Homo sapiens: one gene and its partners. The protein of the gene in region 1 purifies or fractionates together with the protein of each later gene. This does not show direct contact. Each region holds a gene or a part of one and is shown in the gene's direction. Other genes may lie near its edges. The genes, in order: SMNDC1, SF3B6, CHERP, TSR1, CDK5RAP3, IFT88 and ITSN1.

Region 1 (3,091 bases):
GATCTTAAAGGGCAAACCAGGCCTGTGTTTATAGGATGTCCTCATTTTAATGGGTGTTTGTAGATTTTTGGTGGAAGGGGAAAATAAGTTTTTATTTCATGAATTTTAATTTTTTTTATAAATTGAAACTTAGGACAGTGGTAGGTAGAATTCTTCATCTCTCCCTTCCACACCCACCCCTCTCAACCCAGGAGGGTCACTTTTTCTTCATATAATTCGTGGCCACAGGGTAGGACACAAAGGACAGAAAGGCACAAACTGCAGTAGAAAAAGGGTTTGTTGAAGCCTGTAAACTTCTAAATAAAATATACTTTGTTATTGTAACATCTTAAGAGCTTATCAATAATCAAGAGTAGCCTTGATGGATTGCAAGAGAATCCTTTGAATTAAAAAGCACTGGGAAGAAATTTGGTGTCATTGTGTGACCCCAGAAAATGGTTGTTGAGATTACCTTGGTGGTATTAGAATAGTAATTCACTTGATGTTTGTGTAGGCAGGACTGTTAACAGTCTTGTCCCTCTTTTGACCCTGGGGGGCCTTAGTTTTCCCAGAGGACTTTGCAGTAGGAGAGAGAAAAAGAATAAAAGTGACCTTAAAAAAAAATGTTTTGAAAATAGACCTTTAGAATGAAATCAGCAACCTTTGTGTCAAAGATCTAGATGTGGCCCTTTGGAAAATCCTAGTGTCAGGATGATGTTTGTGTCTCTGAACTAAGAGGCAGGACTCCTGGGGAGACTACCTGTCACAGTGTGATACTGAATTTGAGAAGATGCTCAATGAGAAGCATGATACCCACAGTATTTTACAGTTGAAGGTGGTTAAGCTCTCTATATTCTGAAACAAAATATAAACCTTGACCTTAAAAAGCTTTGTTAGAAAATTTAATGTAGAGTTTTCCCCATTAAGAAAGGAGACTTGAAGCTTTGAAACTGTGACAGACTGAAATGTTAAATATTGAGTTATGGGCCCCTAAGTAGAAATGGTTGCATGTAACTTACCAAAGCTTGACGTTTGACTGTTGTTACCATTTCAAGGAAAGAACAGTCCTAACCTCCCGAAAATAAAATGTTGAGTTTTAGTGGTAATCACAGGTAACAAGTGCTATTTTAATTAACATGTAGGGAGGCCACAGAGCATACTGGAAAACAGCAAGGACTCTAGAGCCAGACTAGTGTTTGTTTATTACCATTTATTACCTGTGTATTCCCATTTATTACCTGTGTATTCCTCTGATTCATTTTTCTCAGCTGTAGAATGGAAAAATCTGTTTCAGTTTTAAGGATTGAATTCAAATGTGTAAATAGCTTAAGAGTATCCGGCATAAGCACTATAGAAGCGTCTGCTATTACTCTGCAGAGTGGCAGTGGTGAATTATCTGATATTTTTTCCTTAACTTGAATAGCAATCCACATTACAATGGATAACAATACCCATTGTTTATGATTTGAGGCATCCAATTATAACTGTATTATTGAAGTGTTATCAAATTACCAAGGCTGTAGGGTATATTTAGTATTCCTAGTTAAAGGTTTGAACTAATTTGTATACTAGGGCATGTTTCTTAATGGGAAGGGGGTGAAGGTTATAATAAAAGTCACCCCTAATGCTTGTTTAAAATTAAAGAGGAATTTGTGGGCCTGGGACCAACCTTAGACTTATCCAGGCCAAGGTATGTTGTTTGACGAACACCGCAGGTGATCCTGATGTGCATCCCCGTCTGAGAACTGTTAACTATAAAAGTTTGACTTTGGAAATGAAGAAAAATTACCTTTTAGCCTAATCATGAAGACTAGGCGTCAAACCAAAACAAGATGCATCAGTTACTGTAGCAACACATTTTTTTTAAAAAATTGCTTGTTGTCACAATGAAGGGTGTGTGTCTGTTTCCAGTATGCAATTCTAATGCCAAATGTCTGCCTTAAAAATAGCAAAGGAGACCATCAGGTTAACATAAAGGAAAACTGTAGTTGTGTGACTCATGTGTCTGTAGATTGTAATTTTATAATTACAATTTTTATAAGATAAAAAACTACCAGTTGTAAATTCAACCAAAAAAAATTTAAAGCTTTGATTTAGCTTTTTGCTTTAACTTGGGTAGTAACTGAAATATAAAGGAAGAAAATCTATTAAAACCAATGAGGTTTTATATTTTTTTAAATCTTGATTCAATAAATATCAGCTGAATTAAGTATCTGTATGGTACTACGAAGCAATCAATTAGTATAAATGGCAATTTACAAGTTCAACAGTAAATGTAAACATTCTTTGTATCTAGGATTTTTGAGTTGCAAGTTAAACTGAATTTTTACTGCAGTAGAGAGGAGGAGCATAGCAGGCAAAATAACAGGTAATACTGTATTTTAAACAAACAGAAAAACCCAAGTAATTGGCGCCCTTTATCCAATCATCTTTTAAAAGGCCTATGTATGTGTATAGTTATGTTCTTAAGAAACATCTTAAGAGGTTCAGAAATCAATTTTATAGATGGAACATTTTAATAATTCGTTTTGGCCTAGCCAAAAGAGTAAAATAAAACAAAATAGTGTTAGATTTCTGTGAGGTGTTTTAATTGCCTTTTCTGCCTTTTAACTTATGTATATAAAGGTGGTTCTTTTGTGGCCTTGATTGGGGTAAAGCAGAACTGAGAATAATAGGGGTTTGTAGTAGTTGACAGCTGAACTAGCTAAAAATACGAAGTTTTGGATATTTAATTAATCTTTCAGTTCCCAGGCAACAAAAACTGGAAACTTAGTTCCACCACACACCTTACCAGTTCATTTAAAACAAAACCAGTATAGTCACTGGAATTATTTAAACTGTAATTTGTTTCTCCACTTAGTCTTTTTTAAGAATACGGCTGAAAGAGCCATGGTGATAATCATTAGGAGAGAAGGTTGGCATTTTGTTTGAAGAGCTACTTTCTCAACTTGGGGCTGAAAGTTATGGTTGTTGTTTGCTGGCTCAGGATTTACCTTTCTTGGTAAAACTGATGTGCTTTTGTTTTTTCCCCTTTCAAGCCCTGTACTTACTTTAGCAAGATGCAGTGAATTTCTGACCAGAGAAACAAAGAATTCAGGCTTGGAGGAAACAC
Region 2 (3,866 bases), on another chromosome or scaffold:
GGTGGGTGGATCACTTGAGGCCAGGAGTTCGAGACCTGCCTGGCCAACATGGCAAAACCCCATCTCTACTAAAAATACAAAAATTAGTCGGGCATGGTGGCGCACACCTGCACAAGAATTGGTTGACTCTGTCTCAAAAAAATAAGAAAATAATGTTAGCTCAGTGTCCAATACGTGGTAGGTACAGATACATGCTTTTAAAAGTTCAAATTATAATATGGCTCTCAAGGTGTGAGGTTGATAATTAGGGCTGGGACACTTAAGATGGAGAGTCTTTAAAGTGGGGTTAGTGTCTATCCCTATTCTAGTTCCTAAGAAGATATAAGAGGAAGAAAGAGAGTTGCTTTGTTTAGTTTTGTTTTGAGCTTCCTGAACAAAGTGTGTGTGAGAGAACTGATAGAAGAAAGTAGATCTCCACTTTTCAAAGGCGTATTAGCGTCTGCCTTATGCGTGGCACTAAAGGAATAAATGAAGTACGCATAAGATCACCTTTGCTCTTAAGGAACTGAAAATCTTATTAAGTTTTTAGAAGTCAAAAGTCTGAAAGTTGTTAAGACTTGCCAGAGCCTAAAGAACATTCTAAAACCCCTCGTCAGGCCCACACAACCTGACAAAGTGAGCGCATTCATTGACAGTGGCACCCTCCAATCACCCCCAGTACCCTATTCCTTTTCAATTTTACAGGAAGCACAAGCTTGAACAGGGCCCAGACTATAGTCCTATCCTAGATCAAGTCTAGGCAGGTACCTCCTCTTCCCATGGCTCCACTGCTTTTATTCAACCCTATGTAAGGACTGTGGCAGATGGAGAGTCAGCCCACAGTCTTAAACCTCATTCCACAGTTGCACTGGGTGGTTGGAACACAGATGGAGGCAAGGGGGCCATCTTGTCACCCAGAGCCTGAACTGAGTGGGACCTCTACCCATTGTCTCCACTAACAGTCACATGGCCACCTGCTGCCTGCAATTTAGCGTTGCGTTGCTCCTCAAACTTCTCTACCTCTCCCAGAGGAAGTTGGTGAGGTGAAGGAAGGAAGTGGCCAGGAATAACTACACTAACAGCAACCTCGTATCCATAAGTAAGGTTAGCTTCCACTTCCAGCCACCTTCCAGCATTCTGCCCTGGCTCACTGATAACCCTATCCACAAGCACACTTCCACTCCCATCTTTGCAGAAGCCTAGCCCTTCTCCCTAGCCACACAGCTGTATCGTGCATTAGCACTTGAGTTGTATTAAAAATGAATGTAGACCGGGTGTGGTGGCTCATGCCTGTAATTCCAACACCTTGGGAGGCTGAGGCAGGCGGATCACTTGAAGTCAGGAGTTTAAGACCAGCCTGGGGAACATGATGAAACCCTGTCTCTACTAAAAATACAAAAATTAGCTGGGCATGGTGGCACATGCCTCCAGTCCCAGCTACTTGGGAGGCTGAGACACAAGAATCACTTGAACTTGAGAGGCAGAGGTTGCAATGAGCTGAGATTGTGCCACTGCACTCCAGCCTAGGCAACAGAGTGAGAGTCTATCTCAAAAAAACAAAAACAAAAACAAAAACAAAACAAAACAAAGACAACGTAGAGCCAGTCAGGGTGGCAAGAGCACCTGTAGTCCCCACAACTCACGAGGCTGTTCTGTGTAGTAGCTGTGTTCTTAGTATTCCTGATGTGACAGTCAGCTTGACCTATGGATATTTTAGTTAAGATAAAAACGAAGAACAAAATTACCTAATTCAAGAAATTACAGGCTTATCCGGTATATCTATCCATGTTTATTTCCTCTGATGGTTTCAGGTTGATTTCAAAATACTTAACTAAAAACGTATTTCAATTTACTGTTTTTAAAAGACAGTTACCAGTTTAAAAGACAGTTCTGTAAGTCAACTATCAATGCTCAGGTAAATGTATATCTTAATTAAGTTTAACTTACCTCTCCAGGGGGAACACACCTGAAACTAGAGGAACAGCTTATGTGGTCTATGAGGACATCTTTGATGCCAAGAATGCATGTGATCACCTATCGGGATTCAATGTTTGTAACAGATACCTTGTGGTTTTGTACTATAATGCCAACAGGGTAAGTATAGCAAAGTTCTCATTGTGTAGTGATCTCATTTGAGAATTAGTGTAGAACTGGCCGGGCGCGGTGGCTCATGCCTGTAATCCCAGCATTTTGGGAGGCCGAGGTGGGCGGATCACGAGGTCAGGAGATCGAGACCATCCTGGCTAACACGGTGAAACCCCGTCTGTACTAAAAATACAAAAAATTAGCCGGGCGTGGTGGCGGGCGCCTGTAGTCCCAGCTACTCGGGAGGCTGAGGCAGGAGAATGGCGTGAACCCCAGGGGGTGGAGCCTGCAGTGAGCCAAGATCACGCCACTGCACTCCAGCCTGGGCAACAGAGAGACTCCGTCTCAAGAGAATTAGTGTAGAACTGTACTGTGATGATATATGTCTACTATGACTTTCTTTTTTGGCTAATGCTATTGATGAAATTCATTTGGCTGTAGATTGGTAATTTAATTTTGGTGCTTACCACATTTCCAGGCATTTCAGAAGATGGACACAAAGAAGAAGGAGGAACAGTTGAAGCTTCTCAAGGAGAAATATGGCATCAACACAGATCCACCAAAATAAATGTTTTCTACATTTTCATTTGGACTAAATCCCACGAATGACAACTACCACCTTTTTTTCCTTTTTAATTAATACTAAATATTGTGATTTCTTATTTGAGGTTCAAAATGACCTGCTTGAAACTTTGATACATATTGGAATACATTATGTTAATAAACTTGTAGCTTTTTGTGAAACACCTCAGTCTTTTCTCTTGAACTTTCCCTTCCTGTTTGATACCAGGAAAAAACAGTTGAAGCTTATCAAGAATTGTAGGTGCTCCTAGGGATTCTGAGTTTCTTGAGAACAGGATCTCTTTACATTCTTAATGCCTCCAGGGCCCGGTGCAGTGCTTAGCCATCAAAGGAACTTGCTGTTTATTGCATGTCCATTAATAATGAAATCTTCATAACAACTCAGTGAAGATAGGTATTTGCATTTTGCAGGTGAGGAAACCAAAGTTCATGATGTTGGTTGAATGAATAAAATGCTAACATACAAAGCTGGTGTGATAACAACCAGTTATTAACCAAGCCTTTACATTTGAATAATGCTTGCTTTATAGTTAACAAAACACCTGTGTCAATATGGGTACCCTTGTCTTTAGAACAGAGGTCTATTATAGAAATGGTCATTTAGATGATAGTACATTGTTAGAAACTTAGATTTGCCTCTTTAAATTGTTTTTTAATTATTATGGGTACATAATAATTGTCACATTGGTAGAAATTTGAGAGCAAGCTGCTTGGGTAGTGGCGTTGGTTGTTACATGTCTAAGATTGTATTTATGTAGACTTTTCCTTTAGTTATTAAGTATCTGTAGGTATATTGGACCTTAGCTCATAATATATCTTTGCCATAAATACTTAATGCTCATTCTTATTATCATGAGTTCCCATGACATGGAAACAGTATGGTTATTACCCCATTCATCATCATGGCAGCTTGGGAGAATATAGCCGTAATTTGCTTTTTATTGCTTAGGCATGGACCAAATGGAAAAACATGGACTAATTGTTTTGTGTGTGATTGGAACCTAAAATCAATTTGAAGGTACATACACTGAATCACTTCAATGTACAAAGAGCATCAATTCTGCTTTTAATTATATCTGAGTGTTTTTTGAAAGCAGTGTAAGAGAGTAGAGTCATTTCTAAGGGTGGGAAGATAAGAAAGGAGCTACAGCTGTAATTTTCTTTTGAATGCTTTTATGAATGCATTATTAGTTTTTGTAATGCACGGTGTGCCTTTAGGT
Region 3 (4,245 bases), on another chromosome or scaffold:
TCCTCAGAGACCTCACCACCTGCCCCATCTGGCCAGAGTTGGGACCTGCGCCCACCCTGACCCAGGCTTCTGCCGGCAGAATGGGTGTCTCACTGCTGCCTCAAACTGGATGCACCCCTGAATGCAGAGGGGTCTCTGTCCCCAAGGGCTGGAGAAGCAAGGAGAGTCAGTAGAAGGACAAGGCAGGTGTGGGGGAGGCCGCAGTGTGCGCTCGGGGGTGCGGCTTCGTGCCTTTCTGGCCAGATGTGCAGAGGCCCGGTGGCTGTGACATCTTAACAGTCAATGGGTAGCTTAAGTGGCAGAGGTCAGGGAGTGGCCGAGGAGGTCGGAGGATGAGAGGTACTGAGGCCTGGGTTCTGCATCAGGTGGGGCCTAGGTGGGTGAGGAGGTGGGCAGGCAAGCTTAGCTTGCACCGGAAGGACACTGCGCAAGGACTGGATGGTGCTGGCGAGAGAGCGGCCAGGGGACTTCCTAGGTTCTCCGAGGAGGGGACGGCCCGAAGATGGAATGCTGAGGCTGGGATCCTGTGAGAGGGAGGGCAGGACCCGAGACTAGGAGGAGCTGGTTTGCGTGGGCATGAGGCTATGAACAGGCCCTCGTGGATGGTGAGTCCCTGGGGAGGGGGAGGCCCCTGTGGCTGAGAGGTGGCCAAGGGGACACCTAGACCCCCATCTGCATTCTCATGGGGCACCCCTCCTCCTCTCCCTCCAGTCATCTGCAAGCAGCAGACCCCGGAGCTGGAGCCAGCCGCCACCATGCCACCCCTGCCACAGCCCCCGCTGGCCCCCGCCGCGCCCATCCCGCCGGCCCAGGGCGCGCCATCCATGGACGAGCTCATCCAGCAGAGCCAGTGGAACCTCCAGCAGCAGGAGCAGCACTTGCTGGCGCTCAGACAGGTATGGGCCCGCCGCCTCCTCGGCCAGACACCAGCAGCTCCCCTGTGCCTCTGTTTTTGCGTCTGCTCATCAGAATGAATAACAGGTGTCAGTGAGGACAGGGCCCCCCCTGCCACCCAGGGCTCGGTGCATGTCAGCCACTGTCACCCCCAGCCCTGATGCCAGACACAGAGGCTGCTTCTCATCTCAGTGAAGCCACTGGACGTGCGTGCACCCATCACCCTGGGGTGGACCCCCCTGAGTGGGACTGTGGGGCACGTATGCACCTTGAAGCTCCCTAATGGCTGTGGCCAGGCAGCCTCTGGTGCCTACCATTGGCCCCACCACACAGTAGCTAGGTCACCTGGAGCTGTTGGTTGGGGAAGGACCCTTTTTTTTTTTTAAGTCTTGTTCTGTCGCCCAGGCTGGAGTGCAGAGGCGTGATCTCAGCTCACTGCAGCCCCTACCTCCCGAGTTCAAACGATTCTCCTGCCTCAGCCTCTGGAGTAGCTGAGATTACAGGCATGCACCACCACACCCGGCTAATTTTTCTATTTGTAGTAGAGATGGAGTTTCACCAGGTTGGCCAGGCTGGTCTCAAATTCCTGACCTCAGGTGATCCACCTGGCCAGAAGGACCCTTTTGTCCTTCCTGGTCCAACAGTTTGATAACTTTCGCCAAATAGAATACAGGTGCATTGGCTGGGTGTGGTGGCTCACACCTGTAATCCCAGCACTTTGGGAGGCTGAGATGGGCAGATCATGAGGTCAGGAGTTCGAGGCTAGCCTGGTCAACATGATGAAACCCTGTCTCTATGAAAAATACAAAAATTAGCTGGGCGTGGTGGTGCACGCCTGTAATCCCAGCTACTTGGGAGGCTGAGGCAGGAGAATTGCTTCAACCTGGGAGGAAAAGGTTGCATGAGCTGAGATTGCACCACTGCACTCCAGCCTGGGTGACTGAGCAAGACTCAGTCTCAGAAAAAATAAATAAATAAAATACTACAAGTGCATTGCCAGAAAAATGAGAGGAATAGAATACCAAACCTCCAAAACACCAACCCCACGCTCAGTACTAGGTTCAGGGCATAAAATCACACTGTCATATTGCTCTCAGAAAATTCCAGCTGGGCACAGTGGCTCAGCCTATAATCCCAGCACTCTGGGAGGCCAAGGCAGGCGGATCACAGGGTCAGGAGTTTGAGACCAGCATGGCCAATATGGTGAAACCCTGTCTCTAGTAAAAAATACAAAAATTAGCTGGGTGCAGTGACAGGTGTCTGTAGTCCCAGCTACGCGGGAGACTGAGGCAGAATTGCTTGAACCCGGGAAGTGGCGGTTGCAGTGAGCTGAGATTATGCCATTGCACTTCAGCCTGGGCGACAGAGCGAGATTCCATCTCAAAAAAAAAAAAAAGAAAAGAAAAGAAAGTTCCAGAATGCTCACCCTCAGCTTCTGTTCATCATGGAGTGGGAGGCCTGCCTTGACCAGCCGTAACTGACCGCTGGTCCGCATGGCAGCTCTGTTTTTACCAGTCGCACTTTAACCGGTGTTTCCTCTTGAGGAATGAGATTGCCCCCTTCTTGCTTCACTAGAGGCCATGGGTGTATCCTCTTCTTCTATTGCCTGTCGTTCACACCATGCCTCATTTGTCTTTTTTTTTCTTTTCTTTTCTTTTTGTTGTTGTTGTTGTTGTTGTTTTGTTGTTGTTAGAGACAAGGTCTTGCTGTGTCACTCAGGCTGGAGTGCAGTGGTACAGTCACAGCTCACTGTTTAACTTTGAACTCCTGGGTTCCAGCAATCCTTCCGCCTCAGCCTCCCAAGTAGTTGGGAACACAGGCACACACTACCATGCTCAACTAATTTGTATTTTATTTTTTGTAGAGATGAGGTTTCGCTACGTTGCCCAGGTGGTCTGGAGCTCCTGGGCTCAAGCGATCCTCCCGCCTCAGCCTCCCAAAGTGCTGGGATTACAGGCATGAGCCACCGCGCCCCGCCTTTGTTTTTTGTTGAGTTGGTTTGCAGAGGTTGTTTGTTCCTCTGGGCTGCAGTGTTTTCCTTGGTTACCTGGAGGGCAGGTGTTGTCTCCTGGTATGTCCTGTCAGTGCCCTGCCCACTCCAGGAGGGACTGTCACAGATTCACGGCAGGCATGAGAGACAGAATCTCCTCCTGCTGGGGACAAGCAAGGGAGCTGATGGCCAGAGCAGCCCAGAGTCCGGGCATCGCCACCATGTCCCCACCCCGCCCCTGCTGAGCCAGGCCGGAGGGCTCAGGCTGCGGGTCCCTCCTCATGTGTTCTCGACCCCACCGACCCCCGCCCGCAGGAGCAAGTGACAGCGGCCGTGGCCCACGCGGTGGAGCAGCAGATGCAGAAGCTTCTGGAGGAGACCCAGCTAGACATGAACGAGTTTGACAACCTCCTGCAGCCCATCATCGACACGTGCACCAAGGACGCCATCTCGGTGAGGGGCCAGCACTTCCCAGAGCCCAGCTTTCCCTTGGTCCCTCCCTGAGGCAGGGCCTGTCGTAGCCAATCTGGGCTAAGGGCTGTTACAATGGGTGCCCTTCCCTCCCGCCTGGAGCTCCTGAGGCTGTGGGACCCTGTGCCCCCCACGCTCATGGTGTGTCCTTCCCTGAGCTGATGGTGACGCGCTCTCAGGGATGCAGTGGGTGCCTGGGGGAGCCGCGGCCCTGCTCACTCGTCATTGGCTCGGTTGTTGCAGGCCGGGAAGAACTGGATGTTCAGCAATGCCAAGTCCCCGCCGCACTGTGAGCTGATGGCCGGCCACCTCCGGAACCGCATCACGGCTGATGGGGCACACTTCGAGCTGCGGCTGCACCTCATCTACCTGATCAATGACGTGCTGCACCACTGGTGAGCGCCGCCACCCCGTGCCCAGAGCGCCACTTCCTCGCGCTCCTCCTCAACCCTCCTGGGTGGCCGCTTGCTCCGGTCGGTAGCTTGGCTTGGCCTGTCCCGAGACTAGGGGGCACTTGTCCGGGGACCCCGGGTGGGGGGTCTCTGTGAGCCACCAGGCTTCTGTCTCCAGGACTGCGAGGTCTAGGTGTCCTGTGCACCTTCGCTGCATGCCCTGTCCTCTCCCCTAGACCCCGGCCTCACCTGTCACATTGCTGTCTCCTGGGGGCCACTGTCCCCTGCACTCCTTCCTCTCATGGGGCAGCTTCTTGGCGTCTCCTTGTTGCCTTCTCAGCCACGGCCTCCTTGGCCTCTGTGTCTGTCTCCTGCCCTCGTCACTGATTTGCACGCACACACACGCGGTCACCTGACTTTGCTCAGCCATCAGGACCCTCCTTTGGGATCCCCTTCTCCAGCCCTGACCCATCTCTCAGGCTTCAACAGAGCCACATC
Region 4 (4,245 bases), on another chromosome or scaffold:
AGAAGGTCTTAAAGTCCTAATGAAGGCAGACCCTGGTAGACAGGAATCCTTGCAAGCAGAGGTTATCCCAGATCCAATGGAGGGAGAGCAAACCTGGCCCACTGAGGAGGAGCTGAGCGAGGCAAAGGGTCAGTATTGGTAAACTTGTCTGTAATTCATCTGACCTGGAATTGTGGATTTTCTGTAGCTGTTCCAAGTGAGGGCCCTATAGGATAGAGTGGGGTGGGGGTATAGTTGAAAGTCTCTCCTCACCCTCAAATGCTGTATGTTTTCAATAAACAAACATTATACACAGTCTTGTTCCATTTCTCAAAATTACTTGTGTTAATGTTTTATCATGAACAGATAAACAACTTTGGATTCATTGCAGGGCTTATTTAGCTGTGTAAGTATTGCTAGTTGTGAGGCAGCTGAATTAAATTTGGAAGTAGTTCTATTTACAGTGTCTGCCAGAATTTCCCATGTTGGCAGCAGTATCTGGTGCCTTGCCTAGGTGAGAATAACCAGAGGGATAGGGAAAAGAAGTCTGTAATTTACTTAATTTGTTTGGGCTTTTACAGATTTCTTGAAGGAAAGTTCTAAGGTGGTAAAGAAGGTCCCCAAAGGAACATCCAGTTACCAAGCTGAATGGATTTTGGATGGTGGCAGCCAAAGTGGTGGGGAAGGAGATGAATATGAATATGATGATATGGAACATGAGGATTTTATGGAGGAGGAATCTCAGGTAAGGAAATGAGGCCTTAGGCCAATTCTGTGTCTAGCTCCAAATGTAAGGCAAAGTGCAGGTGTGATCTTGATGGGTGTGTGTGGTTAGTTTCTTTTTTTTATTTTTTTTATTTTTTTTTTATGAGACGGAGTCTTGCTCTGTTGCTCAGGCTGGAGTGCAGTGGTGCGATCTGGGCTCACTGCAAGCTCTCCCTCCTGGGTTCACGCCATTCTCCTGCCTCAGCCTCCTGAGTAGCTGGGACTACAGGCGCCCACCACCATGCCTGGCTAATTTTTTTGTATTTTTAGTAGAGACGGGGTTTCACTGTGTTAGCCAGGATGGTCTCAATCTCCTGACCTCATGATCCGCCTGCCTTGGCCTCCCAAAGTGCTGGGATTACAGGCGTGAGCCACCGCACCCGGCCGTGTATGGTTAGTTTCTTAGGAATGACTCTGTAGTTGCCAGGAATGAGGCTTTTGTTTTATACTTTAGACTGTATTAGAATTTATGTTGGTTGGGAATAGGGATCTAGTACAATTATTTTACTCTTAGCTTATTGGCCTTTGGGGTAGAGACAGGTGTGGATTTCTTCTGAAAAAACTGTAATCCTATTCTACAGGATGAGAGTAGTGAAGAAGAGGAAGAATATGAAACTATGACTATTGGGGAGTCTGTGCATGATGATCTGTATGATAAGAAAGTAGATGAAGAAGCTGAGGCAAAAATGTTGGAGAAATATAAACAAGAAAGACTGGAAGAGATGTTTCCAGATGAAGTGGACACGCCCCGTGATGTGGCTGCTCGAATTCGGTTAGTCAACAAGTCTATCAACAAATCTAAATTCAGTCAATACGTTTTTAAAAACTTGGCTCAGAGCTGTGTCACTGTGATGCAAAAGAAGAAAAACACATTTTTTCTGCTCCTGAAGAGCTAACATTTAATATGGGAAGGCAGGACATACATACGGGAAATGGTCATATGTAATTAAGTTCTAGACTGTGGTGCAGACTCACGTTACAGGACTTGAATGAAGGGGAAATACTAAGGTTAATTAGCAAATACTTCTTCCCAAAGGAGCCAGTACTCAATTGAAGTATATAATGTTTGGAAATTTTAGGGGGTTTGGGTAGAATAGCAGAAGTAGAAGAGTGAAGAAGTAGATGATTATATCTGTTCTGGAGGTGAGTGACTAAAGCCAGTGAATTAATTTTGGATATTAGGAGGTAAGGCTATGTATTAGGCCATTCTCGCATGGCTATAAAGAAGTACCAGAGACTGCATAATTTATAAAGAAAAGAGATTTAATTGGGTCATGGTCCTGCAGACTGTACAGGAAGCATGGTGTTGGCATCTGCTCAGCTTCTGGGGGTGTCCTCAAGAAACTTACAATCATGGCAGAAGGTGGAGGGGGAGCAAGTCATGTCACACGGCCAGCGCAGTAACGAGAGCAAGGCAGGAGGTGCTACACACTTTAAACAACTAGATCTCATGAGAACTCACTCAACAAGGAGGGTGGTGCTAACCCACTCATGAGAAAACCTCTCCCCTAATGCAGTCACCTCCCACCAGGCTCCACCTCCAACACTGGGGATTGTATTTCAGTATGAGATTGGGGCAGGGAGACACATCTGAACTGTATCAGGCCATTACCAAGCATCTTTTTTGTCAGTGAGAAGCTTGGGTTTGGTTCCGATAGAACTTGTTATAAGCTGTTCGGAGTGTCGTCTTGGTTTAAGCTGTTGGGTTGTTTGGAGAGAGGATGATTGGAGTTCTTTTCAGCTAGCTCCTTAGCCATTTTAGCAGTGACTTGAGTCTATATAGCACCATATAAATCTGACTTAATGTCTTTAAAAATCTTCAATATTCTAGATTTCAGAAATACAGAGGCCTTAAGAGCTTCCGGACATCTCCATGGGATCCTAAGGAAAACCTTCCTCAAGATTATGCTCGAATATTTCAGTTTCAGAACTTTACTAACACTAGGAAAAGCATCTTTAAAGAGGTTGAAGAAAAAGAGGTTGAAGGAGCTGAGGTATCTATCCTCCTTGTTCATCTTGTATGTTGCTTTCATTTGTCAACATGCTCCCTACTTTATTCCTTCTCTTGGCATGAAAATATGCTGCATTTGGGGATTAGGGGAGCCCCTGAGTCATTGATTAGAATGATACTGGGAACAAAGAGGTATCAGCTATGTTAAATGAAAAAGTGTGATCTGGGTAAATGAAGCATCTTGAAGGATGAGGGTTGGCTTTAAAAATTTTATCTGAGAGACTCAACATATTTGGAGAAAGCTTCCTCGCTATTGGGACTTTGAAAGGTAACTCCATGATTGCTTTCTGCTTTCTTGTGGCAGGTTGGCTGGTATGTCACACTTCATGTCTCTGAAGTCCCCGTCTCAGTGGTCGAGTGCTTCAGGCAAGGAACACCCTTGATTGCATTTTCTTTACTACCTCATGAACAGAAGGTAAATTGCTGTCTTGTGGGAAAATGGGGGGTTGTGAAACTTTCCAGCTGCTTCTGACAGTCTAAAATTCTGTTTATGTGTGACTAAAATTTTGCTCATTGGGATGCAAAAAGTCTGCCTTTATGATTAGGAATTGGAGAATAATAGAGAAGTCAATGATGGTTTTATTCATATCGTCTGAACCTGTCTGAAGCATCTCAGTGATGCAATCTCTGTGTGGTTCTGAGACTTCTCCAAGTATGTTTTTCAGACCAGATTTTGAATAAGGGTTGGCAGCCTTAAAAATAAAGGTTTGGCTGGGCGCGGCGGCTCACGCCTGTAATCCCAGCACTTTTTGGGAGGCCAAGGTGGGTGGATCACCTGAGGTCGGGAGTTCGAGACCAGCCTGACCAACATGGAGGAACCCTGTCTCTACCAAAAATACAAAATTAGCCAGGCGTGGTGGCACATGCCTGTAATCCCAGCTACTTGGGAGGCTGAGGCAGAAGAATTGCTTGAACCCAGTAGGCGGAGGTTGTGGTGAGCCAAGATTGCACCATTGCACTCCAGCCTGGGCAACAAGAGCGAAACTCTTATGTCAAAAAAAAAAAAAGTTTATGCCAAAGTGCAGATCTCTTTTCTCTTGGTGGCCAGTAGTTGTGTATGTTGTGGGGTATGTGATAGTTCTTTGATCGGTTTTGGTAAGGGCTCAAGAAGAAGGGGCTTGAATGAGTGTGGTTTTGAGATTGTGGTGAGTGAATGCCTTGAAGGCCACTGATTTTTGTGTGGCAGATGTTGAGCTCTTTTCTGTTAGGTGCAGGAAGGTAGGTTAGCATTGAAGGGTGCATGAAAGCTCTGATCAGCCTGTGTTTGGCTTAAATGCCAGTCATTGGTGGAGGTAAAGGATGAACCCGTGTTTCAGCATCTACACTCCACCATTAATTAGCATTGTCAGTTCTTAGAATGAGTCTGAATCTGCTAGTTTGGTTTGCCTTCTTTCAGTTTAGGCAATTGTATTCCTAGACTATGAAGATTTTTGTTTTTCTTACTTGGTCCCCAGATGTCAGTATTGAATATGGTGGTGAGGCGTGACCCT
Region 5 (4,245 bases), on another chromosome or scaffold:
GGTGTTTGGTACAGGGTGTAGGGGTAAAGGCAGGTGGGAACACTACAGAGCAGGGATGATGGGCCATACTGCCATTTTTGGCACCTAAGTCAGGGCTGCAAATCCTTAATAGAGTTGGAATGTGCAGCCATTGACCTCATCAAGGGCTTTGGTTTATTCTGGCTCCTTGGCTCAGGAAAATTCTCCCCCCATTGCTGTGGTTCTTTGCTCTCCTTCCAGGATCCTGGAGGTGATGGGATAGACTGGGGAGACGATGCTGTTGCTTTGCAGATCACAGTGCTGGAAGCAGGAACCCAGGGTAAGTGCACCATCCCCTGCAGCCCTGGCAAAAGTGGGGTGCTCAAGGGCCCCCACGTGTCTAGAAACAAAAAATGCAGCGCTAAGATGAGGCTTCTTGCACATTTAACTGTTTCTCAAAACCTTGATGAGGATGTGAGCTGAGGGGGACCAAGAGAGGTTTTTTTTTTTTTTTTGGAGACGGAGTTTCGCTCTTGTTGCCCAGGCTGGAGTGCAATGGCATGATCTCAGCTCGCTGCAACCTCCACCTCCTGGGTTCAAGCTATTCTCCTGCCTCAGCCTCCCGAGTAGCTGGGATTACAGGCATGCACCACCACGCACAGCTAATTTTATATTTTTTTAGTAGAGTTGGGGTTTCTCCATGTTGGTCAGGCTGGTCTCGAACTCTTGACCTCAGGTGATCCACCTGCCTCGGCCTCCCAAATGCTGGGATTATAGGTGTGAGCCACCGTGCCTGGCCCAAGAGAGGTTCTTAAAAGTTGAGAGTTTAGAAACTCTCAACTTTTTAGAGACCACATGTGGGCCAGCTGTTATGGTAGGAGGGCTCTAGGGGGATCGGGGCCCTGGAGTGTGACATGACCCCCGCCCCAACAGCAGAGAAGACGTAGTGGTGTCTGAGCCACTAGAGGGCGGTGCAGGATGAAACTTTACCTCCTGCGGTCCACCAGAGCAGAGAGCCGGCCTTTCTACCCCTCTGAACCCAGCTCTGGTCCTCCTCTCAGTCTGGGAGTTGGAAAGTGGTACCTGATTAGAGCTGAGACACCTGGGACAAGGTAGCCTTCCCCCTTGGATTAGAACAAGAAGTGGCTTTAGCACAGTGAGTCTGTCCGTATTAATCCTCCAGGGCTTCTCACACTTGAGGGTCTTTTCCTTCTCCAGTCCTCTGATCCTTTATCACTTCTCTGTCTCTTCCTGGCAGCTCCAGAAGGTGTTGCCAGGGGCCCAGATGCCCTGACACTGCTTGAATACACTGAGACCCGGAATCAGTTCCTTGATGAGCTCATGGAGGTACTGTCATCTCTGGAAGATGCAGGGGGGAGGCATGGCACCAGCACAGGTGGCTTCACTCCAGATGCCTGACCTGACCCCTCCTGTTTGTGTGAAGGGTGTGAGTGCTATTTGTGTCCTACAGCAGGAGCCTCACGTATTAGATGCCTCCTATTCATCCAGTTACTTATCAGGTACCTCCTAGGCACCTGGCACTACCTTAGGCACCAGAACTTGGGTGGTGAATAAGACAGTCAAAGTCCTTGACCTCATGGAGCTTATATTCTAATGGGGAATGCAGACTGGAAAGAAGATAAATAAATAAAATATGCAGGATGCTAGATGGCACCAAATGCCACGGAGAAAGAGAAAGTAGGGGAGGATGACGAGGATGTTGGAAAGGGCTATGGTTTTGTATCTGGTGGTCAGGGAAGGCCTCATTGAGAAGGTGACCTGTAATCAAGACTGCAGGCGGTGCAGAGAGAACCATGCAGATGTCTGGCAGAAGGGCTTCCCAGGCAGAGAGAGCAAGTGCAGAGGTCCCGAGGTGGGAGCAGACCTTGCACAGTTGACCAGCAACATGGAGGCTGGTGTGGCTGAGGAGAGAGAGCTGGTGGGGAGTAGAAGAGCTCAGAGATGTAGCGTCTGAACCTTGGTTTGCCTCTGAGTGAACTGGGAAGCTGTTGGAGGTTTCGAGCAGGTTAGGAACATGATCTCATTTGTGTTTAAGGACGATCCCTGTGGCTAAGGTGTTGAGCAGCCCAGCGTAAGGAGCCAGCGTTCTTGGACCTTTGTTGTAAGGCTGGGAGGACGGGGTCCTGTCTTTGTTAATCTCTGTATCTGCTCCCTTCCCAGTAGCCTGCTGGTTCGGAGAGCCTCCTGAAAGTTCTGTCCTCACCCAGTTCTCTCCTCTTTCTGCCCAGAGGCTCCTCCCAGCCTCAAGGGGAGAGGACAAAAGATATCTGTGAAGTTTTAACGGCAGAATAGGATTGATAAGTTAATATGGCTGGCTCTTGTATTCTTTTCAGCCTTGCCTTAATCCAGTGCTTCTCAAACATGTATTTCTGTTCCCTGAATCTCATTCCTCCCATGGAGACAAAATAAATACCTTCCCTGGGCAGAGAGAACCCTTTGAGTCTCTGTATTCTCAGTTATCTGATCCCAGGCTGGGGAGAAAGGACAGAGGTCTGGGGTTAGGATGAGATAGGAGGTGGGGACTGAAGGGTGACAGTAGTCTCTCCTAGCGCTTACAGTGTTCAGAGGAAACTCCTTACCCAGAGTCTAGCCCTCATGTCTCATTTTTGCATTTCGAGTAGTCCGAGGGCTTAGATTCTGAGTTCTTCTCTCAGTTTGAACCAATTTATCTTCTTTTTTTCTTTCTTCCTTTTTTTTTAAAAAGAGTTTCTCTGTCGCCCAGTCTGGAGTGCAGTGCAGCAATCATAGCTCACTATAACCTCAAACTCCTGGGCTCAAGTGATCCTCCCGCCTCAGCCTCCTGAGTAGCTGGGACTACAGGCATACACCACCATGTTTGGCTAATTTTAAACATTTCTGTAGAGACAGGGTCTCATCGTTTCCCAGGCTGGTCTTGAACTCCTGGCCTCAAGCGATCCTCCTGCCTTGGCCTCCCACAGTGCTGGAATTGCAAGTGTGAGCCATCATGTACAGCCTGAACCAATCTTTCTTCTGTCCTCAGCTTGAGATCTTCTTAGCCCAGAGAGCAGTGGAGTTGAGTGAGGAGGCAGATGTCCTGTCTGTGAGCCAGTTCCAGCTGGCTCCAGCCATCCTGCAGGGCCAGACCAAAGAGAAGATGGTTACCATGGTGTCAGTGCTGGAGGATCTGATTGGCAAGCTTACCAGTCTTCAGCTGCAACACCTGTTTATGATCCTGGCCTCACCAAGGTCTGGCTTCCCCTTGATGCAAGGCTCTGCCATCTTGAGCAGCTCTGCCTCCTTGTATTCCTCCTCTTGTTCCATGACCCCTTAAACCCCATCCCTGCCTCCTGGCCATTGCCATCCACTGGGGATAGGGGTTCTCTTTGGGACAAGAGGGGGAGGTTTCACATATACAGGAAGAATCTGCTTGCTTCCTGAGTAGGACAGGGGAACTGGGAGTGGGTTTTCCTTAAAAGGAAAGGGTTTAAGGATGTGAGGGTAAGCGGCCAGTTGGGGGTTTGGTTTCCCGAGCCTCTCACCTCCCCAGCAGCTGAATGGGAATGCTCAGGATGCACAGCTAACCCAGCACTCACCTGAGTGCCCCGCACAGGTATGTGGACCGAGTGACTGAATTCCTCCAGCAAAAGCTGAAGCAGTCCCAGCTGCTGGCTTTGAAGAAAGAGCTGATGGTGCAGAAGCAGCAGGAGGCACTTGAGGAGCAGGCGGCTCTGGAGCCTAAGCTGGACCTGCTACTGGAGAAGACCAAGGAGCTGCAGAAGCTGGTGAGATGGGAAAGGGAGGCCTGCCAGTGGGAGGACTCCCAGTCTGTGCAAAATGAGGCCCTGAGCACCCCTGCTTCTGCCCACTTGGTATCACTCTTTCAGATTGAAGCTGACATCTCCAAGAGGTACAGCGGGCGCCCTGTGAACCTGATGGGAACCTCTCTGTGACACCCTCCGTGTTCTTGCCTGCCCATCTTCTCCGCTTTTGGGATGAAGATGATAGCCAGGGCTGTTGTTTTGGGGCCCTTCAAGGCAAAAGACCAGGCTGACTGGAAGATGGAAAGCCACAGGAAGGAAGCGGCACCTGATGGTGATCTTGGCACTCTCCATGTTCTCTACAAGAAGCTGTGGTGATTGGCCCTGTGGTCTATCAGGCGAAAACCACAGATTCTCCTTCTAGTTAGTATAGCGGACTTAATAAAAGAGGAAAAAACTCTTGCTTCAGTACTGACAGTTCCTTATGCTGCTTCTCTGAGCCTGCAGTTGAGGCTTCGCACCTGTTTTCGTGGGGTTCTTGATCCAG
Region 6 (4,245 bases), on another chromosome or scaffold:
GGGAGGCGGAGCTTGCAGTGAGCCGCGCCACTGCCCTCTAGCCTAGGCGACAGAGCAAGATTCCGTCTCAAAAAAAAAAAAAAATGAGCAAAAGATCTGAACAGACATTTCTCCAAAGAGATATAGAAATGGATAATAAGCAGATGAAAAGATACTCAACATCATTAGTCATCAGGGGAATGCAAGTCAATACTACAATGAGATACCATTTCATACTCACTAGAATTGCAATAATCAAAAACAGGAACAGTAACAGATGTTGGCTAGGACATGGATAAATTGGAAACTTCATGCATTGCAGGTGGGATGTAAAATAGTGCAGCCACTTTGGAAAACAGTCTAGCTGTTCCTCCAAAAGTTAAACATAGAGTTACTATATGATCCAGCAATTCCTTTACTAGATATATTCCCAATAGAATTGGACCTATATATGCATGCTAAAACTTGTACACACACATTCATAGTGATGTTATTCATAAAAGTCAAAAAGTGGAAACAATTCAAATGTCCATTAACTAATGAATGGATAAGCAAAATGTTGCAGATGTATTTAGCCATAAAAAGTAATGAAATATTGATACATACTACTGCGTGGATGAACCTTGGAAGCATTATGCTAAGTGAAAGAGACCAGACACAAAAGGCTACATATTGTGTAATTTCCTTAATATGAAATGTCCAGAATTGGCAAATCCATAGAGACAGAAAATGGTTGCCAGGGACTGGGGAAAGGGAAGGGAGGCATGGAGAGCTGCTAACAGGCCCCATATTTCTTTATGGGATGATGAAAGTGTTCTGGAATTACATACTGGGGATGGTTGCACAACCTTGTGAATATACTAAAAACCACTGCACCTTGAAAAGTTAAATTGTATGGTATATGAATTATAGTTCAAAAACTAATAATTTTGTTAGTATTTAAAATATATAAATAATTTTTAAAGGTTATGAGAAGCCACATATATGTGGTATTATGCTGAGAAAAAGATTAAGCTGAAAATTTATTTTTTATTTATTTATTTTTATTATTTATTTATTTTTTGAGACAGAGTCTGGCTCTGTCGCCTAGGCAGGGGTGTGGTGGCACAATCTCGGCCCACTGCAACCTCCGCCTCCCAGGTTCAGGCCATTCTCCTGCCTCAGCCTCCTGAGTACCTGGGATTACAGGTGCCTGCTATCATGCCCGGCTAATTTTTTTGTATTTTTAGTAGAGACGGGGTTTCACCATATTAGCCAGGATGGTCTCGATCTCCTGACCTCGTGATCTGCCTGCCTCGGCCTCCCAAAGTGCTGGGATTATAGGCGTGAGCCACTGCGCCCAGCCTAAGCTGAAAATTTCTTAGGAATTTGCTGGTGCACTTAAAATGTACAGGCCTTAAGAAAATATGTATTTGCTTTAAAGAAAATACATTTCTTGAATACTAGCAATACTACATTTCTTGGGTAATTAGCCTTCCTCCACCTCCCACCCCTCAAATTGCCTAAAATATTGACTTGATTTGAATGATACTTCCAGGAATCCTTGCCAGATTCTTTAGTAATTATTAGATTTACAGTATATCTATATGGTAATTTCATTTCTCCCATGCTTCTGTCCAAGTCAAAATGTAGAGATGAATCTTGAAATTTTACATTTTTATTTGGGAAGAAAGAATTGCAGTTTGAGGACCAGGTGGTCTTTGGTATGTCCAAAGAACAAAGAGAAGGTTGGAGGTTTATCAAAAGGAGAAGTGTCATGTAGTGCTCTTTGAGAAAGTTCACTGGAACTAGTGAGGTTCTGGGAAGCTGGCAAGTTCTAATTGGTGGGTAGCTGTGGTGGGCACAATTAGTCCTATATTTGCAGCAAGTTATCTCAGCAGCTATAAATAAAATTGGCCTCAGGTTTTAGCAGCCAGTTTCAGCAGCCAGACTTGCAGAGAATTCCATTCTTCAAGCAATGTTATGTGTCCTGAGTGCCTCCCCACCAACACACCCCAGCTTCTTGACTCTGTTTTAGTTGGGTATGACAAGAATGACTCAAATTTGTATGATCAGCTTTCACTCTTCTGTTTCATTTTGCTTTGATATCTTTTTTTCTGTCTTGCATTTTTTCCCTCAACATTTCATTATGAAAATTTTCAAACATGCAGCAAGGTTTAAAGAATTTTATGTTGAATGTTACTCCTGCTACCTAGATTCCACCATTAACCTTTTTCTATAGCTGCTTTATCATGTACTTATCCATTTACCTATCTCTCAATCCATCTATCAAGCCATCTTTTTTTTTAGAGACAGAGTCTCACTCTGTCACCCAGGTTGGAGTGCAGTGGCATGATCTCAGCTCACTGCAACCTCTGCCTCCTGGGTTCAAGCGATTCTCGTGCCTCAGCCTCCCAAATAGCTGGAATTACAGATGTGCACCACCATGCCCGGCTAGTTTTTGTATTTTTAGTAGCGATGGGGTTTCACCATCTTGACCAAGCTGGTCTCAAACTCCTGACCTCAAGTAATCCACCCGTCTTGGCCCTCCAAAGTCCTGAAATTACAGGCATGAGCTACGGCGCCCGGCCTAAGCTGTCTTATTTTATGTATTTTAAGCTAAATTACAGCTATTACATGTTCCCTGAAATAACAGCATGCGTATCAATTATATAGTTCAATATTTGTTTATAGTTCTTACTTTTGAGGTAAAATTTACAAAGCAGAAATCGCAGTGTATATTTGCTGAGTTTTCACAAATGCATACACTTGTGCGACTCAAACCCCTGCCAAGATACAGAACATTTATCATCACCCCAGAAAATTCTCTCATGTCCCTTTCCATTCAATCCCTAACCCCCATCCCCAAGAAGCGATCTCAGTTCTGATGGTTTTCTACCGCAAATTAGCTTTGCCTGTTTGAGAACTTCATATAAAGGAAACAGTGCATAATGTACACTCTATGTAAGGCTTCTTTCACTCAGCATAATTGGGATTCTTTTTTATTGCTGGATAGTACTTCATTGCGTAAGTATGCCACATTTTGCTTGTCCATTTTACTGATGGGTATCTGGTTTGTTTCTGATTTTTCAGTATTATGAATAAAGCTATGACAAAGAAAAGAAAGGTTTAATTTGAAGAATGAGACTCTCCTCTAAATTACCAGGTCCAGAGAGGCGTGGGAGTGAAACAGCAGTCACATCTCCTTTACCTTCTTGGGCTAAGTAATCATGTCTTGAAACTTGCTTGCTATTGCCATAAGTAGCTATAAATTAATCTAACAATGGCACTGTCTGGATACTATAACCCATACAATGTAGCCAATCACTAATCAACGTTATTTTTTTAAACCAGTGAGAATTTCTGACAGACAGCTTTGTATCAGCCCACTCCCTGCCCCACTTTTTTGCCTTTAAAGATCTGCTTGAAACAAAGGCCAAATGGAGCGCCTGTCCAAGGTTACATGAAGTCTGAGTGTTCTGGGCAGGCAGCCGTCCTCATTTTGGCTCAAGTAAACTTTTTAGAATTGTATTTTATGCCTCAATTCCTTTCTTTAGGTCGACAGCTACTATGAACATTCTTATACAAATCTTTTTGTAGACATATGTTTTCATTCCTCTTGAGTAAATATTTTTGAGTGGAATTGCTGGGTGATAAAAGGTACTTTTAATAAAAGTTAATTTTATGAAACTGCAAGACTTTTCTCCCAAAGTGTATCATTTTACACTCCCATCAGCAACGTGTGAATACTCTGGTTGCTCCACATTTTTGCTGACATTATGTGTTGTTGGTCTTTTTAATTTTACACATTCTGATGGGTATGTGGTGGCTTCTGCCTTGCATTTTAATTGACTGTTGCATACCTTTCTTCTGCACTTGATACTAAGCTTCCATGAAAATCAGGACAATCAATTGTACCCCCTCTAGTGCCTGTCACTGTTCTTTCAGTGTCGTAGTTGTGAAATAAATGTGAAATGAGGACAATAACTTAATGTTTTGACATCTAGTTTTGGGAATTTGATGTGAAAAAAATTGAAGCCATGAAAATATATATAGATAAATTTGACCACAAATGTCATTAAATAGTTATACTTTATTGGAATTAAGAATTATTTCTGGCCTGGCGTGGTGGCTCATGCTGGTAATCCCAGCATTTTGGGAGGCCAAAGTGAGAGGATCACTTGAGCTCAAGAAATTGAGTCCAGCCTGGGCAACATAGGGAGATCCCATCTTTACAAAAAATTTCAAACTTAGTTGGGTGTGGTGGCACAAGCCTATAGTACCAGG
Region 7 (4,245 bases), on another chromosome or scaffold:
CCTCCTTCCCTGGCACTCGTTTGCGTGGGTTAATGTTTTCTTACCTGGGGACTTGGTGCCAGGATTCCTTCGGTTTCCCTCCTGAGAGATGAGGCTGGCTGGCACAAGACGAGGCTCTGTCTCCCCTGGAGGAGTCTTCTGGAGGCGTCTCATTGCATGTGGACAGAGCATGCTTGGTCTAGAATTGTGCCAGCTGCCCTGGGCAAACACGTCCATCTTCTGCTTTCCAAAGCAGGTGACTGTGGAGAGGGGTGTGTTTAAGAGCCTCAGCATAGTTCTTCAGTCCTTGGCAAAAAGCTGTGCTGGCAATGGATGAAACTGGCCAATGGAACAAGGATGTTAGCCCACAACAGGAGCCGCAGAATGGGCCAGGTCCCTTTGGGTGGCATTTTTGTACCACTTATTAAGTAGGCAAAGGGATGCAGTCATGTTGAATGAATCATTTCTTCAGCCAGCCTTCTGTTTCTGCTTGGGCCTGGAAAAGAATAGTCTCAGCCCAATGATTCCAAGAAACTACCTGTCTCTCCCTCAACCCAATAAAAATCACCGGTGGGCATGGTGCTGCAGGCCTGGAATCCCAACACTTTGGGAGGCTGAGGCAGGAGGATCGCTTAAGCCCAGGAGTCTAAGACCAGCCTGGGCAACATAGTGGGACCTTGTCTCTACAAAAAAATACAAAACTTAGCCAGGCATGGTGGCATGCACCTGTAGTTCCAGCTACTCGGGAGGCTGAGGCAGGAGGATTGCTTGAGCCTGGGAGGTCGAGGCTGCAGTGAGCCATGATGGTACCACTATATTCCAGCCTGGGCAACAGAGCAAGATCCTGTCTCCAAAAAAAAAAAAATCACAGAGTAAGTTAAAAGATTATGGTCTCAACTTAATTATAACCGAAGAAGTGAGGGTCAAATGCTAGCATTATCTGTACAAGGTTTAAATGGCTCCATATGGCCTTCATCTTTTAGTACTTTTTATATGAATTATCTCATTGTGAGTTAGGTACTCGTTGTGGTAGCTGGTTAAATGTTTGAGTGTGACTGGAACAGTTTGGCTCCCAAGTCTGGGCTCTTAACTACTATGTGTACTGTCAACTTCTAATTCTTTTTTCTTTTTATTTTTTTTATTTATTTATCTTTTTTCTTGTTGTTCTCGCTCTGTCACTCAGGCTGGAGCACAGTGGTGCAATCACAGCTCACTGCAGCCTCCACCTCCCAGGCTCAAGCAATCCTCCTGCCTCAGCCTCCTAAGTAGCAGGGATGACAGGCATGAACCACCATGCTAGGCTAATTTTTAAAAATTTTTTGTAGAGACAGGGTCTCACTCTATTGCCCAGGCTGGTGTCAAACTCCTGGACTCAAGTGATCCTCCTGCCTCGGCCTCCCAAAGTGCTGGGATTACAGACGCGAGCCACTGTGCCCGGCCACCTTCTAATTCTGAGAGATAAAGGTTGGGGTTGGGTTTTTTTTTTTATTTAAGTAATGAAATACCATGACACATTGGCAACTCCGCTGGGGAGCGAGTTGGAAATCCTAGTGTTGGTTTACATCAGAGCCCAGAGAAGAAGGGAGAGCATAACAGTTCATCAGGGGGTCCCCAATATGCCAGACATGTGCCTCGAAGAGAGGGAATGGTCCCTCTTAGGAGGGTCTGTTTGTTCTCTTTTCAGATTTTTTGGGTCGGACGGAGATCCGTGTGGCGGACATCAAGAAAGACCAGGGCTCCAAAGGTCCAGTTACGAAGTGTCTTCTGCTGCACGAAGTCCCCACGGGAGAGATTGTGGTCCGCTTGGACCTGCAGTTGTTTGATGAGCCGTAGGCAGCGGGCTCAGGGTGTGCTCAGCAGGGTCCCAGCCCACGGCCACACATGCTGTCTGGAAATTGTATTCCTTTTCTAAGAAACCACCATTTGGTATTCAGTCACAGGGATATGGGATGGCAAAGACAGGCCCCTCAAAGCTCCTAGGAATCATTCTCGACAATCCTCCCTGCCCCGAAACAATTTCCTGTTTCATGAAACAAAGCTGTGTTTTCCTTTGTCCTCACTACAGGTCTCATTATGGCTTCTAGGGTCGCTGAAATCCCATAGCCCTCAACAGGGTGCAGCTGGGAGTCTAGCCCCTTCCCGGGCTTGAGGGATGGGTCTGGTTACTATAAAATAGATTTATAAATGCAATGTCTATATTTTTGGAGAACTCATGTAACCCTCCTGTTTCTTACATCCACCAGTCCCCAAGTAGACTTCTTGGCCTACAATGCCCAGTCCTTGGTGTGAGTTTAGAAACAATTATGACGGTCCTGTCATTGCTTCAGAATCCCATCTCTCCTGCAGGGAAATGCTGCCTAGAGCTGATCACTCGGTGAGACGGTCTGATCAGGCCCTGGCTTAGCTCTTTGAAGAGCTGGTCTATGGAAGTTTCCAGCATGTGCACCGTTATAGCCGTTCCTTCCCCCTCTAGGCCTTGTATTAATATATGTCAATGAAAACACACTGGTGTATTGTTGCGTGGATTCAGTTCTGATTCCCAGCATGCTTAGAATATGGTCACAGAAAGTCATTATCTAGAAAGTCACCCCTCTGCTGGATCAGATCACTACAGGTCACTGGAAAGGCAACTTTACAATGTTGGGTCACTGGGTCTCGGTTGGCAGCCATGTTGGAAAAATCTCTTTTGGCTCGGAGGCCTGTGATATTTCATAGCAGCAGTCGTTGCTGGTGACCTGTTCTGTGCTTGAATGTGCTGAATCCTGATTGTTGTAGGACATTTCAACAGCTCTTTTTGGTACGTTCCCCAAAAAGCCATGTCCTAGATCCCCAAGGCGTGAAAAGGAAAAATATCAAGCTGGAGGTTGGGAAAGAAAATGAAGGCAGTCCATTATGTGGTGGGTGAAAGACCCTAGGAGGATGCAAGCCCCGCACATCCCGGGGCAAAGACCTAAGACACTTTTCCACCCTCCACCACCCCAACCTCACATAATATGCTTGTTGCAAGAGTCAGGACTTTATGACTATGTGCCAAGCTGTTTGGTTTGAGTTCTTTAATTTTTTTTTCCCTTAAATGCCAGGAGATCATCTGGTTAGTTAGATAGTAACTTGATTTGCTAATGAAAAGTGGGGGCCGTGTTTTGTTTGCATGTTAATATTCTCATAATCCTAGTTTGTTGTGGTCATGAAATGTCCTTTGCATGTTCTGTTGGTACTGGAGTCTAGCTTTCCTGTACTAGATGGTGTTCTCTTTGATTGTAGGTCCTTAGACTTTAATTAGGGTTATCAAAGTGCTTTCTAAATGATAGCATCAGCGTTGTGGCAGAGTACCTCCTTTGCTGGGAACTGAATGTGTAGTGTTATCATTTCCCATGAGAGCCCGGTCATACTTCAAGCAATTTTTTTAAAAGTGTGTGTTGGAAAGGACAACAAAGTTTACATTTCATACTTTTAAGAAATACTTTATTATTTATTTATTGAAGATAGTGTAGAATTTTGTATCAAGAACAACAGACATAAGTATTTTTTGAAACAAGCAAATATACCCTGTAGTTAGAAACTTTCAACTGAACATGTTAGAGACCAAGTTTAACTTCAGGCATGCATTTGTTTACCATTTCCCAGCAGAAAACATGGTTAAAATACTTTAAGTTTATATTTTTTGATGTTGTTAAGAAACTTTTAAATTAAATCTATAAATAGACATGCAACTCATGCTTTCCTATTTCTATAACCAACACCGTTTGTTTAGTGTATTTATGAAAGATATGCTACCATGGTAGAAAGAAAAGTATTCAATGTGTAAATGGGGTAGTGTGGGTCACCATTCCGATCTCTTTTTGTTTTCTGTCCTGTCTTTTCTTCATTGACTTTATTTGCGTGTTAATGTTGGACATCATTGTTCATGTAGGTAGCGTATGGTATGCACAATGACAAACAATCGTTTTAGGTCCCAGGTCACCCACTCATAGTGTCCTATTATTGGAATTAATGTAGCATGAGAAAGCAATATGTGACTCTTTTTCCTCAAGTGACTCTGTTGAGCATCCTTGAGATGCTCCTGCCATGTAGCAAGTTCTGGATTAGTGTCCTTGTATTTACTGGTGTAATTTGTAATGTAACCAATTGTCCGTATGGAGGAGTCGGGCTGGCCCTCGGACCCAGCTGTGATTCATGAGTTGTGTCACAGGGATTGAGAAACATGGGTGATGCATGGAGTCTCAAACCATTGGGCCTCTCTGTTCCTTCACCTCTACCTTCTTGACC

Evidence for each region.
Region 2: the proteins of SMNDC1 (region 1) and SF3B6 purify together in Homo sapiens (co-immunoprecipitation; 2 studies listed by BioGRID and IntAct, with this or other methods). This does not show direct contact.
Region 3: the proteins of SMNDC1 (region 1) and CHERP fractionate together in Homo sapiens (co-fractionation; one large-scale study listed by BioGRID). This does not show direct contact.
Region 4: the proteins of SMNDC1 (region 1) and TSR1 purify together in Homo sapiens (affinity purification with mass spectrometry; one large-scale study listed by BioGRID and IntAct). This does not show direct contact.
Region 5: the proteins of SMNDC1 (region 1) and CDK5RAP3 purify together in Homo sapiens (affinity purification with mass spectrometry; one large-scale study listed by BioGRID and IntAct). This does not show direct contact.
Region 6: the proteins of SMNDC1 (region 1) and IFT88 purify together in Homo sapiens (co-immunoprecipitation; one large-scale study listed by IntAct). This does not show direct contact.
Region 7: the proteins of SMNDC1 (region 1) and ITSN1 purify together in Homo sapiens (co-immunoprecipitation; one large-scale study listed by IntAct). This does not show direct contact.

Annotation. Positions count from the first base shown.
Region 1 is NC_000010.11:110,289,797-110,292,887, reverse strand, and holds the end of SMNDC1 (survival of motor neuron-related-splicing factor 30), read left to right. Parts: 3' UTR 1-2,158; downstream 2,159-3,091. UniProt on the Homo sapiens protein: Involved in spliceosome assembly.
Region 2 is NC_000002.12:24,066,528-24,070,393, reverse strand, and holds the end of SF3B6 (splicing factor 3B subunit 6), read left to right. Parts: intron 1-1,934; coding exon 1,935-2,073; intron 2,074-2,542; coding exon 2,543-2,632; 3' UTR 2,633-2,808; downstream 2,809-3,866.
Region 3 is NC_000019.10:16,532,103-16,536,347, reverse strand, and holds part of CHERP (calcium homeostasis endoplasmic reticulum protein), read left to right. Parts: intron 1-711; coding exon 712-896; intron 897-3,199; coding exon 3,200-3,337; intron 3,338-3,598; coding exon 3,599-3,750; intron 3,751-4,245. UniProt on the Homo sapiens protein: Involved in calcium homeostasis, growth and proliferation.
Region 4 is NC_000017.11:2,329,440-2,333,684, reverse strand, and holds part of TSR1 (pre-rRNA-processing protein TSR1 homolog), read left to right. Parts: coding exon 1-128; intron 129-560; coding exon 561-724; intron 725-1,325; coding exon 1,326-1,516; intron 1,517-2,575; coding exon 2,576-2,738; intron 2,739-3,059; coding exon 3,060-3,170; intron 3,171-3,314; exon of another isoform or gene 3,315-3,406; intron 3,407-4,209; coding exon 4,210-4,245. UniProt on the Homo sapiens protein: Required during maturation of the 40S ribosomal subunit in the nucleolus.
Region 5 is NC_000017.11:47,977,613-47,981,857, forward strand, and holds the end of CDK5RAP3 (CDK5 regulatory subunit-associated protein 3), read left to right. Parts: intron 1-219; coding exon 220-298; intron 299-1,216; coding exon 1,217-1,305; intron 1,306-2,980; coding exon 2,981-3,186; intron 3,187-3,550; coding exon 3,551-3,722; intron 3,723-3,824; coding exon 3,825-3,890; 3' UTR 3,891-3,974; coding exon of another isoform or gene 3,975-4,122; 3' UTR 4,123-4,169; downstream 4,170-4,245. UniProt on the Homo sapiens protein: Substrate adapter of E3 ligase complexes mediating ufmylation, the covalent attachment of the ubiquitin-like modifier UFM1 to substrate proteins, and which is involved in various processes, such as ribosome recycling and reticulophagy (also called ER-phagy).
Region 6 is NC_000013.11:20,569,970-20,574,214, forward strand, and holds part of IFT88 (intraflagellar transport protein 88 homolog), read left to right. Parts: intron 1-3,051; exon of another isoform or gene 3,052-3,182; intron 3,183-4,245. UniProt on the Homo sapiens protein: Positively regulates primary cilium biogenesis. Also involved in autophagy since it is required for trafficking of ATG16L and the expansion of the autophagic compartment.
Region 7 is NC_000021.9:33,886,489-33,890,733, forward strand, and holds part of ITSN1 (intersectin-1), read left to right. Parts: intron 1-1,663; coding exon 1,664-1,812; 3' UTR 1,813-4,245. UniProt on the Homo sapiens protein: Adapter protein that provides a link between the endocytic membrane traffic and the actin assembly machinery. Acts as a guanine nucleotide exchange factor (GEF) for CDC42, and thereby stimulates actin nucleation mediated by WASL and the ARP2/3 complex.